Regions from separate parts of the Homo sapiens genome. Here regions 2 and 3 are each linked to region 1. Evidence: fine-mapped expression QTL. A gene starts in region 1. Each other region holds a variant in brackets. All regions are shown on one strand. Distances are between the middles of the regions.

Region 1 (2,765 bases):
ATCATATCATGGTGGGGAGATTTTTCATAATTTTCAGTGGTGCAGATGACGCTCTTCCCATGTCTGGGGAATTGCCTGCCCAGAGTCTGGGAGAGACACAAGGCCTGGGAGCCGCTTTCCTGGCCTGCCGTGCAGCTGAGGCACTGGCACGCAGCCTAAGCCAGGCACACTTGCCCATGCCCTGGAATGGAGAGCCAGTGACCCAGAGTAGTGGGGATGTGAGCTTCTCCTTCTCTGGGGGTGGAGCAATGGCAGTGAGACCAAGGGGCTGGGGCAGTGGTTGAGCGATGCTGACAACAGGGCTGATGGCACCTAGTGTTTGGCAGTGGCAGTAGCATCCTCTTCAGACCTGTTTATGGTGTGATTTGAGGCATTCTTCCTGGCTGTGGACCCCACACAAGATTCACTAGCCCTCCCAGTGACTCTAGGATCTACCTTCAAATGTTTGCATAAATTTCCTTTTAAGTCAGCCTGAGTCTGTTTCTGCTGCTTTACAAAGAAGACCCTTACTGAATCACCACTAAGTGCTGGGGGAGAGGACACAGAGGACAGAGGGCCCACATATTTGTTTCTCAACACATTAAAAGGGGGTCTTTGGGCCAGGCATGGTGGCTCACACCTGTAATCCTAACACTTTGGGAGGCCAAGGCAGGGGGATCGCTTGAGGGCAGGACTAGCCTAGACAACACAGAATCTACAAAAAAAAAAAAAAATTAGCCAGGGGTGGTGGTGCATGCCTGTAGTCCCAGCTACTCAGGAAGCTGAGGCTGCAATGACCTGCAATCTTGCCACTGCATTCCAGCCTGGGTGATAGAGACCCTGTCAAAAAAGGGGGGAAGGCAGGTGTCTTTGGATTCAAAACTGGAGTACAAAAAGTTAATAACAGACAATTTATTTATTCGCTGCATTAGAATGTGTTGTTTACTAACTTTTCTCATCTCTACACAAAGCCACTTCTCCTTCTGCTGTTCTTTGTTCCCAGCAGTTACTGGCCCAGAGTGGCACCCAGAGCAGGTACCCTAGACAGTGACTGAACTGTTCTGAAAAATCCAAGTACGAATTATTTGTCAAACAATACTCCTTCCTGGAAATATGTGCTAGGTGTAAATCAAAATCTCACCCAGAAACATCTAACACCTATGACAACTGTAAAATCCATGGAAAAAAAAAAGATATGCACATTTCTAAATGTGCTCCAGGCCAAAATCTCAATGTTAAATGGTGAAGCCATCCTTGCACAATTTCAAAAAGTTCCTGATTATGGTTCCTTCATAAGAGGTTCCTCTCTTCAGCTCTTCTTCCCTTCTGAAAAAAGAAAGCCAACTTTCCTTTCAAATACACACCCCAACCCGCCCCGGCATACACAGAAATGGGGACTGCGAGCAGAAGCAACATCGCTCGCCATCTGCAAACCAATCTCATTCTATTTTGTGTCGGTAAGGTTCTTTTTCTTCTCCTCCTTCATTTTATTTAAATCAACTGCTATTTTTCACCTAATGCATTTATATTTTAAGCTCCTTCAGATTAATTTTTAAATGTATAACATTATGAAAACTGCCTAAGAGGATAAGTTTCCTTTTTCCCCTGAGAAATAGACAATAAAAAAATAGCTGAGAAAAAGTTTCATATTAACCTTGAAAAGTCTCTTTGCTATTATGCTAATTGGAGACAATCTGACCAAAGGGTTGAAAATATTCTTAAAATCGTAGGTATAAGTTATCAATAATTTAATTATCATACAAACTTGATCTGCACATAGAAAGCAATAAATGATTATTTGCTGAATATTTTCAAAGAACAATTTCTATAAAAGTACTTTTCATTTAAGAAAAAAAAAACTGCCATGACTCCAATAGCCATCCCATAGTATATCTATTTTTAAAATTCTGTCTACTTCTGTTTTTTTATCTATGAAAGAGAAAGGATTTCCAATACATCTAGTAATCTCAGATTTGCCCACACAATTTGGATTATAGGGCAGGGAAGGGGGGAAAGTTCTTAATTTTTTCTCATCTGTGAAGAAATATATCAAAATGTTAATGGGAGTTATTTCAGGCAAAAGGACTATGGGTGACTTTTTGCTTCTACTTTTAATAACCTGTTTTTTGCTAATAAGTATATATTACTTTCATAGACTATTTTAATTAGCATTATTTTAAAGAAGAATTCCTGTCTTTTAGAGATATATTCTGAAAGATGCAGATAAAATGGCTGGGATTTGCTCTAAAATAATATGGGAGTGAGGGAGTAGGTGGGAGGAGAAAAGAAACAAGATTGGGTCGAAGCCATGTGATGGCAGGGGGTTGACTGTACTACTTCGCTACTTTGATATGTTAGAAATTTGAAATCTAATATAATAAAGCTTTGGGCTGGGCGTGGTGGTTCATGCCTGTAATCCCAGCACTTTGGGGGCCAAGGTGAGAGGATCACTTGAGCTCAGGAGTTCAAGACCAGCATGAACAACATAATGAGACCCCCATTTCTACACAAGAAAAAAAAATAGCTGGGCGTGATGGCACCTGCACTGCACCTGCAGTCCCACCCACCTGGGAGGCTGAGGCAGGAGGATCACTTGAGCCCAGGACTTTCAGGCTATAGGGAGCTGTGATTGTGCCACTGCACTCCAGCCTGGGCAACAGAGCAAGACATTTACTTACTTCTTACTTACTAGATAGAGAGACAGCTTTGTTTAAATGTCAAGAATTAGTTCTCTTCCTACTTTCAATATGGCTTTTTTGTTTGTTTGAGACGGAGTCTCGCTCTGT
Region 2 (2,765 bases), 580 kb before region 1:
CTCCAGCCTGGGCGACAGAGTGAGACCCTGTCTCGAAAAAAAAAAAGAAGGAAAGAAACATCACTTTGTTCTAACGTAAACACAGCATTCTGTGAGAACCAATGCCTGTAATTTAAATCAGCCCCTCTTGCGGACACTTGAGCTGTCCTCCTCGGGGTGGGTGTTCATTTCAAAGCTGCCTTAGGACAGGAAACAGGATCAGTGGAAACCTGCCCCTTCAGGGGCCCCCGGACCCCAGAGGAGACCCACGGGGCTATTTCTGGAGCTGCCTGCCCCAGAGTAACTCCAGCTAGAACTCTAGGCCTAAAGGGAAAACATTACCCAACTATCTCCAAGAACTAAAATTATTAATTTTCTAAAAACAGATTAATTCAGAAGTTATGGAAGATTATTTTTAATTTCAAATCCCCAAGTGGTAATAGGCATTTTGTTTACAGTACTGATACTTAACTGTTTGTGAGGATTTGATTAAGAAAGGGTAATGGTATTGCACTTTTGATTTTTTACCCCCACCAGTTATTATAAAAAGTCCAATAATGTTCGCCTTTCCCCCTCTTCTTTTTTTGAGATGGAGTCTCGCTCTGTCACCCAGGCTGGAGTGCAGTGGCACAATCTTGGCTCACTGCAACCTCCGCCTCCTGGGTTCAAGTGATTCTCATGCTTCAGCCTCCCGAGTAGCTGGGACCACAGGTGGCACCAACACGCCCGGCTAATTTTTGTGTTTTCGTAGAGACGGGGTTTCGCCATGTTGGCCAGGCTGGTCTCAAACTCCTGACCTCAGGTGATCTGCCTGCCCGTGCTGGGATTACAGGCGTGAGCCACCGCGCCCGGCTTCTCCCCGTCTTCTTTATACCAGCTTTGCTATGGTATGAACACAAATCCCTACCAAAATAAGTACACTTTTCCTCAGTCCAGAGAAGGATGTCCAACTCTAAAAAGTGTTTTTTTGTTTGTTTTTTTACGATAACCAACATGAAGGATCACATTGCACATATGTCTCTGTACCCACATACACGCATATGCAGGGGTGCTTTCAAAATATTCAACACAAAATTGGACAAATGTAGAAGACACTTGAGACGGAAACCTTCCACAGTATGAGGTTTTTGTTTTTTGTTTTTTGTTTTTGAGATGG[A/C]GTCTCCTCTGTTGCCCAGGCTGGAGTGCAGTGGTGCGATCTCGGCTCACCACAACCTCTGCCTCCTGGGTTCAAGGGATTCTTCTGCCTCAGCCTCCTGAGAAGCTGGGACTACAGGCATGCACCACCATTGTGGAAGGAAAATAAAATAAGTAATAATAAAGTTAAAAATAATAAACATAAGTAATAGTTAACATTAAGTATAGGTTATTTAGAAGTTATACATAGGCTAAGAAATTTAAGCAGCCCCTCCCAGCATTGCTAACAAGTTGCAGCTATGAGCTTATCTCAATCTTCCAAGCTTATTGCCTGCCTCCAGACCCCCGCGTATTTCTGTAATTCCTGTTTTCCCTTACCCCGAAGCTCGAGCTGTCCAGCTTCAAAGTTGACTGGTCAAGATAACTAAATTATATGTTTTCTCAGAATTGTCACGTGTTAAATAATTTACTGTCTTTGTCTGAAACCTGTATCCTGCCTTGTTTTCCCTCCTCAAACGACATATAAGCAAGCCTGCTTTCTGTGTCCCAGTCGGCAGCCATTTTAGGCGTGGGCCTGCTGTCGGCCCGGGTACCTGAATTAAATAAAGTTCTCTTTGGTTTCCAAAGGTCTCTTTGTCTTTTCCTTGGCTGGAGTTTTATTGTAACACCATGCCCGGCTAATTTTTGTATTTTTAGTAGAGATGGGTTTCACTATGTTGGCCAGGCTGGTCTCGAAATCCTGACCTTGTGATCTGTCCGCCTCAGCCTCCCAAAGTGCTGGGATTACGGGTGTGAGCCGTCGCGCCCAGCCCACAGTATGAGCTTTTAATCAGTAAACAAATTTGGGAAAAGGTAATTAATTTGTGGAAAGGTTTTAAAAAATATATTAATTCTCATAATCAGTGACAAATTATTAGGACCACACTCCTGGAATGTGGCAACAGAGAGGGAAATAACACTTATTAAGCACCTATAATGTGTGACACACAATACTAGGTATTGTTTCAAAAGTAATGATTCATAAGAATTTAGTCTTGCTTGAACCTGGGAGGTGGAGGTTGCAGTGAGCTGAGATTGTGCCACTGCACTCCAGCCTGGGCGACAGAGTGAGACTCCATCTCAAAAAAAAAAAAAAAAAAAAAAAAAGAATTTGGTTTATCCTTCATAGCTGTAACTACATAGGATGGCTGTAAGCATTTTTTCTTTTTTTTTTTCTTTAATAAAGATGGGGTGTTCCTATGTTGACCAGGCTGGTCTCAAACTCTTGGCCTAAAGCGATCCTACCATCTTGGCCTCCCAAAGCGCTGGGATTACAGGCTTGAGCCACTGTGCCCAGCCAAGATAGCTATAAATGTTAAATGAGATCATTTTTTTCAGTGTCCCTAAAACAAGTTTCTATCAAAGTAACTAATAGTTATTATATTTGTTTCTCCGCTTGAATGTCTCTGCTGATAAATGGGGAGATTGTTAAGTCTGTAAACAATTGCTGTTTGCCTGTCTGTACTCAGTGCATAGCCTGGTGACAGATATATAATATGTAATAAATAAATGCAAATTTCATGTAATCAAGTACCCACGCTGGCACCTACCAAACGGTTTTCAATAAAATTATGTTTTTAAATTTATTTTAGGCTGGGTGCAGTGGCTCATGC
Region 3 (2,765 bases), 44 kb after region 1:
TACAAAGGAATGAAGCACTGCTTCATGCTCCAGCATGGATGAACCTTGACAACATTATGCTAAGTGAAATAAGTCAGTCACAAAAGACCACATACTGTGTAATTCCACTTACGTGAAATGTCTTGAATATGCAAATCCAGAGATAGAAAGTAGATAGTAGATTGTGGCTGCCAGGGGCTGGGGAGCTGGGACAATGTGGAGTGGCTGCTAATGGACATGAGGTTTCTTTTTGGGGTGATGAAATGTTCCAAAATTAATACTGGTGATGGCTGCATAATTCTGTGATTATACTAAAAATCAATGAATTGTACTCTTTAAAAGGATAAATTTCATGGTATGTGAATTATATCCCAATAAAGCTGTTTTTTAAACACACACACACACCCCTCCCTAAATATGCAGGTGGCAGTTAGATCTTCCAGAAATTAAAAGTGGCCTGAAAACATAAGTAACCTAGAAAACCTCTTAAAATGCAAATTTTAAATGCAAATCTGATCACATCACTACCCTGCTTAACAGGAATCTTAGGATAACATCCAAAATGCTTAATATGGCTTATAAGGCCCTGCACGATTTTTGTTCATTCTGTGTCTCCAGCCTCACCTCATGACATTCCCTACCAACCCATGACCCCTGGACCCTCACTCCATCACACAGCTCCACCCCTTCCTTCTTTTTTCTGGAAGGCCCCTTTCCCGTGGCTGTCTCACATGGTATTTGCTCTGCCCCCCAACATTTCCCACCACCTAACCCACTCTCTCTTCACCTGGTTCGTTCAACTTCAGCCTAAATATTTCCTAGGTATATTTTCTTTTCAAAGGAAAATATACCTACGAAAGGCTAGGCTAGGCCCCCTGTTCTAATACCCTTTCATACATCCCATTTGTCCCTTTGGTAATATTTACAATCTCTGAATTGAATAATTGTAGACAATCGCATGTTCAGTGCCTATCTTCCCAGGTAGACTGAGAGCTTCATAAAGGCAGAGAAAATGAATGGCTTCAGTGCCTGGCACAGATACAGACAAACAATAAATGTTCATCAACAGGCAGCCTAAACAGAATTTGGAGTTTCTAACAAAATCCTAGAGGAAACATAAGGATAACCACAGAGA[T/C]CGCTGCCATGGGGTTTCTGTCAATTTCTCAAACTCTGCAAGGCCTTGCTTAAACCTAATTTTGCAACCAGTGGTTACAGCTACCCACTCACCACAAAATTGCATTACCACAAGCAAGGAAGCAAGCAATGAAGGAAGACACCAACTGAGCACCTATCATGCACCAGGCACCAAGCCATGTGCTTTACATTTCATTTACCACCTTGCAATTTCTGAATAAATGGGAAGCATAGGGTCCCTAAGCAGCTCCAGCTGATTCAAGCTCCTGCTCCAGGTACGTGTTGTTTTATAAGCGTTTCTTTCAAAGAAGCTTCTCTTCACTTAACTCTACCCAGTGTGTCTGCTAAAGAAAAGAAAGCAGGACTATCCTGCCAATTAAACTGAACTACATGTGTGTAGAGAAAAGATAATCTGGTCTAGATAGTAACTAAAGTCCTGTAAGCCAGGGTTTCTCAGCCTTCACACTACTGACATTTGGAGCTAAATGATCCTTTGTTATAGGGGCTGACCTGCACATTGTAGGATGTTCAGCAGCATTCCTAGTGCCTATCCATCAGGTTACAGTGGCACTACCCCAAATGACAGCCCAAAATGTCCCAGGCATTGCCAAATGTCCCCTGGGAGGCAAAACTGCCACTGCTTGAGAACCCATACATGGCCTTACCCACAAAATGTCACTGTACTGACTCTCCAGTAGTGTTTCCCACTATCCCAGCCTAACTATGGTCTAGGGACTCCAGCTGACTGAATTAAAAGATGGACTCGCTGGCCTCAGAGAACTTACATTCCAGAGTGAAAATAAAATCAGAAACCAAGGGAAACAAGTAATGTGACTATGATCTTGGCGAGGAGCTTCAGAGCCTTAAAGGAGCAGTCACCTTGCCCTTAAGGTGAAATACCAAGGACCAAGGAGAGAAAAAATCTGCAGGAACCCCTTTAACCCAATGGGCAGGACTCCTGGTTTCACCTCTCTCCAAACAACCAGCTTAGATAAAAAGCTACGCTAAGCTCGCAGCACTGGGTGGCTTGTCTGTATGCTCCTGTGTACTTTCAAGCAGGTGAGTTCTTTGTTTTTTTTGAGACGGAGTCTTGCTCTGTCGCCCAGGATGGAGTGCAGTGGTGTGATCTAGGCTCTCTGCAACCTCTGCCTGCCGGGTTCAAGTGATTCTCTCGCCTGAGCCTCCCAAGCAGCTGGGATTACAGGCACCTACCACCCCGCCTGGCTAATTTTTGTATTTTTAGTAGAGATGGGGTTTCACCATGTTGGCCAGGCTGGTCTTGATCTCCTGACCTCAGGTGATCTGCCTGCCTCGGCCTCGCAAAGTGCTAGGATTACAGGCGTGAGCCGCTGCGCCCAGCCGCAGGTGAGTTCTTTAAATGTGTGCTCCTTAAAGACTACAGAGACAAAGGTGCACAGGCAAGAACAAAGTACTATGCCCGTTAAATTCACACACTGACAGGACTACACGCCCACTCTACTGTGAGGCTGGACTCCTTGGCTGGAGCCTACCATGTCTGAAAAAGCATCTTATTAGCATCTGCCTTTAAAGCTCACTCAAATGTTGTTTCATCTAAATAAACAAGGGAATCTTTTAAATGACAAATTCTAATCAAATGAGAATGATTCCATTCAGTCATCTGCTGATGCCAA

Evidence for each region. PIP is the estimated chance that this variant, and not a neighbour inherited with it, causes the effect. A credible set is the group of variants that fine-mapping cannot tell apart.
Region 2: its variant is the best candidate, but not a certain one, in a credible set for the expression of IGSF6 in esophagus muscle (GTEx, PIP 0.61).
Region 3: its variant is the best candidate, but not a certain one, in a credible set for the expression of IGSF6 in whole blood (TOPMed, PIP 0.68).

Annotation. Positions count from the first base shown.
Region 1 is chr16:21,651,203-21,653,967 of GRCh38, reverse strand. It overlaps IGSF6 (immunoglobulin superfamily member 6), which reads left to right and starts at 1,360. Exons shown (of 6, transcript NM_005849.4): 1 at 1,360-1,436. The coding sequence starts at 1,370. All of the region lies in intron 4 of METTL9 (methyltransferase 9, His-X-His N1(pi)-histidine), which reads right to left.
Region 2 is chr16:22,227,501-22,230,265 of GRCh38, reverse strand. All of the region lies in intron 2 of EEF2K (eukaryotic elongation factor 2 kinase), which reads right to left. Among named protein-coding and RNA genes, the nearest start is that of EEF2K, 23 kb to the right of the region's middle. The variant A/C (reference allele first, on the strand shown) is at 1,136.
Region 3 is chr16:21,607,576-21,610,340 of GRCh38, reverse strand. The region is part of intron 1 of METTL9 (methyltransferase 9, His-X-His N1(pi)-histidine); the gene reads right to left. Among named protein-coding and RNA genes, the nearest start is that of METTL9, 9.4 kb to the right of the region's middle. The variant T/C (reference allele first, on the strand shown) is at 1,115.